2 linked regions of the Homo sapiens genome follow. The protein of the gene in region 1 interacts with the protein of each later gene in a pairwise test. Each region holds a gene or a part of one and is shown on either strand. Other genes may lie near its edges. The genes, in order: FBXO8 and SH3GLB2.

Region 1 (4,010 bases):
TGTATATAAAAGCATCTTTTAATTGGTAAAGCAGTATGTAGTTTCTGAAACAGCTATATTGTTCTGACATAATTTTGGATGTATTTTTTTTAAAGTAGCAGTTTTAGTCTAACCAAGTCTGTTACAACAGCATAAAAGCGCTTCCACTTAAAAGCAGTACAAACTATGGATTAACTACAAATAATTACACATTTATTAAAATTTATAAGAACAATAATAGTTTTCTATACTTTTTAACTTCTAGAAGATCGTTACATTTCTAAGAGATGGTATTTTTGACTACTATGTTTTGTTTCCTATTCAAAATAGTAGACTATTTCTTAAAAAGACTAAAATACAAGTTTTATTAATATTTTGTATCTAATACAAAGTCTATCTGTAAAATATTAAGCAGCTTTAATCAAACTATCTCTCTGTAACAAGTTAAACACCAAAATAAAGTAGTATTTATTAAGAAAAAGGTAACTACTGCTTATAATTTCATGGCACTAAGCACTCAAATGGCACATGCTGTGCAGACAATAAGTAATGAAGAATGGTTTATATACTATTTGGGCATATAAAATCTACACAGGGAAAGATGGCAAGAATAGAAAGGAGTCCGGATGTCTCAAAAAAGCATTCTGCTTTAAGTACTTTTGTTTGAAGCAAACCAATTCCATAAAGCTTTTACTGAGCAAACGGTGTTAAATCATTGGTATGTAATGACTGACATATGAATAGCCTCATTTAAATACACATTATAAATGGTCATTTTTCTTCAGTATTTCTTAGTTGTCTAAATAGTGGAATTTATAAGTAAATGTCCTGTCTCAGATAAAGGTTTAAAATGTGTGCTACAATAGTTATCTCTAAAATACAAATTCTAACGATAAGGAAATCCACTTATATGTTTTTATAAATTTTCAGTGCTTTTAAGTAAAAAGTAGCAACTCTATTTTTGGTTACTTCAGGTTTTAAAAATCTTTAAGGGATATCATGTGATATTATTCAATAGCATAAGAACATGGGAGAGTCTATGAGAAAATATTTTCTGAGACATTTTGAATCAAATCAGGAGCCTAGCATTTATTTCTTCACTTCCAAAAGAATAGACCACCAAAGAAGTTTAGAACAGACTGCGTAGAGAAATTTTTTAAAAAAGAAAAAAACCCTGATAACCAATCACATCCCTAAAATTTAAAGGCAACAAATGTAGAGAAATAAAGGAAGGGTAAGTCCACAAGGAGGTCTTTCTAAGGAGAAAAGGGAAATAGCTAAGTACTAAGAGGTCACAAGGTACATTGAACACATAAAAAGCCCCTACTCATTAAATTTAAAGATCTGGTCCTGCAAGAGCAGTTTTTGTTACTAAAAGGCATACCATTTGCAGGTTTTGGTTTTTTTTAATTCAAAAAGATTTACAATATTACTTTGTTCCCTGAAGGTTTTTTTCCTGTTAATTTTATTCTATAAAAAGTGTTACCAAAATGGCAACTAAATAAATGTAAAAATTAAGATGTGTTATTTAAATGCAACCAAAAATCTAAGAATTTTAGGCTTATTCAATTTCTGTGGTTTGTTTTTCAAGAAATGCTCCATTGTCCAACTATTTGAAACTTTAAAATAAATGTATCATACTTCTCACTAGCATTATTTTTAATTATATGGTTCTTACTTAATTGTATCACTATTTACTTAAAGTGGCTGTAATCAGCTGTAGTCATGGTAGCATATCCTAACCCACCTTCTCAGTATACACATACTCACCTGCCCACTAACCACAAAGGCCATTGCTATGAGTGCTATGGAATTAAAAACCAAAACAAAAGTCATAATTCTCACTGAGTTGCTTTTATACAAATAAAACAAGGTATTAAATTAAATGAATATTGAAGGCAGCCAGAAATAGGAGGAAGGTGAAAAATGAGAAAACATTTAATAGTGAAAAGAGACTGATGGAAAGAAAACATGAGTTTGACTCAGTCTCCTTCCTTAGCTAGTAGGGAGCATCAGCCAAGTCACTAAAATTTTGAGGTCTCAGTTTCCTCCCCTGTAAAATAAGGGTTTTGAAACTGGTGTTCCCTAAGGTCTTTTTTAGCTATAAAATTCCATGGTTCCAAGAGTAATTAGACAAGAAAAAAAGTAAAAGACAACCAAATTGGAAAGAAAGCAGTAAAATCCTTTGTAGTTACCCTAAAGATTCTACCAAAAACTTACAACTAATAAATCCATTCAGCAAAGTAGAAAGACATAAAGTCAAGACACAGAAATAAGTCGTATTTCTATACATTTACAATAAACAATCTGAAAAGGAAATTAAGAAAATAATACCAACTACAACAGCATCAAAAAGAATAAAATACTTAGGAATTAACCAAGTAGGTAAAAGGCTTCTGGAATGAAAGCTACAAAACACTACTGAAAGAAGTGAAAGACAAATAAATGGAAGTACATCCTGTGGTTACAGATTGGAAGACTTATTAAGATGGCAATACCACCCAAAGTGATCTATAGATTCAATGTAGCTCCTGCCAAAATTATAATGACGTTTTTTGCATTAATAGAAAAAAATTCTAAAATCCACATGGAATCTCAAGGGACCTCTAATAGTCAAACCAAACTTGAAAAAGAACAACAAAGCTGGAAGACACTTTCTGATTTCAAAACTTATTACAAAGCTACAGTAACCAAAACAGTATGGTATTGGCATAAAAAGAGACATACAGACCAATGAAATAGAACAGAGAATCCAGAAATAAACCATCACATATATGGTCAAAAGATTTTTGACTAGGTGTCAAGATCATTTAATGGGGGAAAGGACAGTCTTTTCAACAAATGGTGCTGAGAAATCATATCCACATTCAAAAGAATGAGGTTGGAACCTTACCCAACATTATCTATGAAAATTAACTCAAAATGGATCAAAGACTTAAATCTAAGACATAAAACTGTAATACTCTTAGACGAAAAAACAGGGCAACAGGGCAAAAGGCTTACAGCACTGAATTTGGCAATGATTTCCAAATGCACAAGCAACAAAAGAGGAAACAGACCAACTGAACATTATGAAAATTAAAAAAAAATTGTGCATCAAAAGACAGTATCAACAGAGTAAAAAGGCAACCCACCGAATGAGAGAAAATATTTGAAAATCATGTATCTGATAAAATCTAATATCTATAATTTACAGATAACTCCTTTAACTCAACAATAACAAAAACATGATTCAAAAATGGGTAAAGGACTTGAAAAGACATTTTTCCAGAGAAAATACACTAACGTCCAATAAGCACAGGAAAATACAGTCAACATCACTAATCATTAGGGAAATACAAATCAAAAGTACAATGAGGGACCACCTTATACCCATTAAGATAGTTACTATCGAAAAAAAAATAAGTCTTGGCAAGGATGTGGAGAAACTGGAACCCTTATGTATTGTTAATGTGAATGTAATACGTATGGTACAGCCTCTGCGGAAACAATATGGAGCTTCCTAAAAAAAAATTAAAAACAGAATTACCATGTGATCTAGCAATTCCACTTTCAGGTATATACCCTCAAGAATTCAAAGCAGGGTCTGGAAAAGATATTTGTTCACCCATGTTCATAGCAGCATTATTCACAACAGCTAAAACATGGAAGCAACCCAGGTGTCCAATAACAGATGAATGGATAAGCAAAATGTGGCTGACACATATAAGGGAATGTTATGTGACCTTAAAAAGAAGAGAAATTCTGGCATATGCTACAACAAAGATGAACCTTGAGGACATTATGCCAAGTTAAATAAGCCAGTCAAAAAAAGTCAAATACTGGATAAGCCCATTTATATGAGGTTTTGGTTCTTTACCACTTTCCAGTAATATGAATACAAACACTTCCGGTTTCCAAAACTGGAAACAAAAGGTAGAATGGTGATTGCTAGGACCTAGGAATGGGGAAGGGGAATTATTGTTTAATAGGTATAGAGTTTCAGTTTTACAAGATAAAAAGAGTAATGAAGATAGATGGTGTTGATGGTG
Region 2 (3,634 bases), on another chromosome or scaffold:
CGCTGGGATTACAGGCACCCGCCACCATGCCCAGCTAATTTTTTGTGTTTTTAGTAGAGACGGGGTCTCACCATGTTGGCCAGGCTGGTCTTGAACTCCTGACCTTGTGATCCGCCCGCCTTGGCCTCCCAAAGTGCTGGGATTACAGGCGTGAGCCACTGCGCCCAGCCAATTTAATTTAACTTTTTAAGAAGTTGCCAAACTGTTTTCCAAAGTAGCTGTATGATTTTTTTATTCCTGTCAGTAGTGTGTTGTTTCATTTTCAGATATTTGTGGATTTTCTGGGTTTTCTTCTATTGTTGCTTTTAACTTAATTCCACTGCGATCAGAGAATGTATGAACATGTCGTGCTATGTTAGTATTATTATTATTTTGAGATGGAGTCTCGCTCTGTCGCCCAGGCTGGAGTGCAATGGTGCCATCTGGGCTCACTGCAAGCTCCACTTCCCAGGTTCAAGGGATCCTCCACCTCAGCCTCTCAGCCTTCTGAGTAGCTGAGATTACAGGCACGCACCATCACGCACCTATAATCACACCCAGCTAATTTTTTTTTTTTTTTTTTTTGTTTGAGACGGAATCTCGCTCTGTCGCCCAGGCTGGAGTGCAGTGGCACGATCTCGGCTCACTGCAACCTCCGCCTCTCGTGTTCATGCCATTCTCCTGCCTCAGCCTCCCAAGTAGCTGGGACTACAGGCACCTGCCACCATGCCAGGCTAATTTTTTTTTTTTTCAGTGGAGACGGGATTTCACCGTGTTAGCCAGGATAGTCGATCTCCTGACCTCGTGATCCACCCACCTTGGCCTCCCAGAGTGCTGGGATTACAGGTGTGAGCCATCACACCCGGCGTATTTTTTGTATTTTTAATAGAGATGGGGGTCTCACCATGTTGGCCAGGCTGGTCTCAAACTCCTGATCTCAAGTGATCCGCCTGCCTTAGCCTCCCAAAGTGCTGGGATTACAGGCATGAGCCAGCACACCCAGCCTCATATTTTTATTGTTTTAATCCTTTTAAATTTATTGAGACTTGTTTCATGACCTAGTATATGGTCTATCTGGGGAATGTCCTAGGTTCACTTGAGAAGATGTGATATTATGCTGTTGAGGGTGCAGTGCTGTATAGGTGTCAGCGAGGCCACATCGGTTAATAGTGTTCAAGGCTTGTATGTCCTTGCTGATTTTGTCTTGTCCTATTCATTATCAAGAGTAGACTATTGAGGCTGGGCATGGTGGCTCACACCTGTAATCCCGCCACTTTGGGAGGTCAAAGTGGTTGGATCACCTGAGGTCAGGAGTTCAAGACCAGCCTGGCCAACATGGTGAAATCCTGTCTCTACTAAAAATACAAAAAAATTAGCTGGGCATGCTGGTGCGCGCCTATAGTCCCAGCTACTTGGGAGGCTGAGGCAGGAGAATTGCTGGAACCCGGGAGGCGTAGGTTGCAGCGAGCCAAGAGCGCGCCACTGCACTCCAGCCTGGGAGACAGAGTGAGACCAAAAAAAAAAAAAAAAAAAAAGAGCAGAGTATTCAAGTTTCCAACTATTACTGTTGAATTATCTTATTTCTCTCTTTGTCAGTGTTTGCCTTATGTATTTTGGAACTGTCTTAGGTCTGTATGTTTATATTTGTGCATCTTCCTGATGAATTGACTCTTTCATTATAAAATACTATTCTTTGTCTCTAGTACTATTTTGTGTTAAAGTCTATTTTGTCTGGTAGTAGTATAGCCACGTTAACTCTCTCGTGGTTACTGCATACATGGTGTACTTTTTTCAGCCCATTCATGTCTTTAAATTTAAAGTGTATCTTTGGATTTTTTTTTTTTTCTGTCACCCAGGCGGGAGTGCAGTGGTGCGATCTTGGTTCACTGCGACCTCCACCTCCCGGTTTCAAGCGATTATCCTACCTCAGCCTCCTGAGTAGCTGGGATTACAGGTGCTTGCCACCACGCCTGGCTAATTTTTGTATTTTTAGTAGAGACAGGTTTCACCAAGTTGGTTAGGCTGGTCTTGAACTCCTGACCTCATGATCCGCCTGCCTCAGCCTTCCAAAGTGCTGGGATTACAGGTGTGAGCCACCGCACCCGGCCGTATCTTTTTTTTTTTTTTTTTTTTTTTTTTTTTTTAAAGACAGTCTTGCTCTTGTTGCCCAGGCTGGAGTACAGTGGTGTGACGTTGGCTCACTGCAACCTCTGCCTCCTGGGTTCAAGCAATTCTCCTGCCTCAGTCTCCCAAGTAGCTGGAATTACAGATGCACACCACCACACCCAGCTAATTTTTGTATTTTTAGTAGAGACGAGGTTTTGCCATGTTGTCCAGGTTGGTCTCGAACTCCTGACCTCAAGTGACCCACCCACTTTAGCCTCCCAAAGTGCTAGAATTACAGGCGTGAGCCACTGCGCCCGGCCTTGCCTTCACTTTTGAAGGATTGTTTTGCTATATATAGAATTCCTGGATGAACAATTTTTTCTTTACTTTGAATATATTATCTTACTGCTGTCTGGCTTCTATTGTTTCTAATGAGAAGACAATTCATCTTATTTTAGCTCTCTTGTATGTGATGAATCAAACCATGTTTTTTCTTTTCTTTTCTTTTTTTTAAAGACAGGATCTTGCTGTGTCACCCAGACTGGAGTGCAGTGGTGCAATCATAGCTTACTACTATAGCCTCAAACTCCTGGGTTCAAATGATCCTTCCGCCTGGGCCTCCCAGAGTATTGGGATTACAGGTGTGAGCCAGCGCGCCCAGCCTCTTATTGTTTCTTCACATATTTTTTCTGCCTTATTTTCTCCTCCTCTTCTGGGACTCTTGTTAGTCATATGTTGGTTCACTTGACAGTGCCCCGTAGGTGCTGAGGCGCTGCTCATTTTTCTTATGATTTTCTATTTATTTTTTATAAAGACAAGGTTTTGCCATGTTGCCCGGGCTGGTCTTGAACAGCTGGGTTCAAGCAGTCTGCCCACCTTGGTTTTCCAAAGTGCTGAGATTACAGGTGTGAGCCACAGCATCCAGCCCAGTAGTTTTTCTTGATTAAATGCTTTTCAATTTGTTTTTTGCCTTGGTCAATTTGCAGAGTCCAGAAATGGATGTTTTTGACAATTGTGTCCAGTTTTCTTTCAATTTGTTTTATTTTCAAAGAGATAAGGTCTCCCTATGTTGCCCAGGGTGGTCTGGAACTGCCGAGCTCAAGTGATCCTCCCGTCTCGGCCTCCCAGAGTGCTAGGATTATAGGTGTGAGCCACCGCACCTGGCGTGGTGTCCAGTTTTATTGTTACTTTTTTTGGGAGGGGATTTGTTGAGCTCCTTTCTCTGACATTCTGGAAGTCTAACCCCGATCTTTATAATGGCTGCATTGTGTTCCATATTTTGGCTGTCCCATTGTTTATTTGTTAGTTCCCAGTTGATGGTGTAGTGTAGGTTGCTTCTGCTTTTTCCCAGGCAAAGCATTCTGCACTGAGCACCCCGGCCCTTGCTCTTCAGCAAGCTCTTCCTGAGCCCTCTCCTGTAGATCAGAGTAGCCTGAGCCTGACCTTCTTCCTCACGCTTCAACTCTGTTTTCTCAGGGAAGACACTGATCAAGGTGGCAGAAGCTGAAAAGCAACTGGGAGCCGCGGAGAGGGATTTTATCCACACGGC

The links.
Region 2: the proteins of FBXO8 (region 1) and SH3GLB2 interact in a two-hybrid assay, tested with the Homo sapiens proteins (one large-scale study listed by IntAct).

What each region holds. Positions count from the first base shown.
Region 1 is NC_000004.12:174,276,950-174,280,959, forward strand, and holds part of FBXO8 (F-box only protein 8), read right to left. Parts: intron 1-4,010. UniProt on the Homo sapiens protein: May promote guanine-nucleotide exchange on an ARF. Promotes the activation of ARF through replacement of GDP with GTP.
Region 2 is NC_000009.12:129,014,832-129,018,465, reverse strand, and holds part of SH3GLB2 (endophilin-B2), read left to right. Parts: intron 1-2,606; exon of another isoform or gene 2,607-2,726; intron 2,727-3,561; coding exon 3,562-3,634.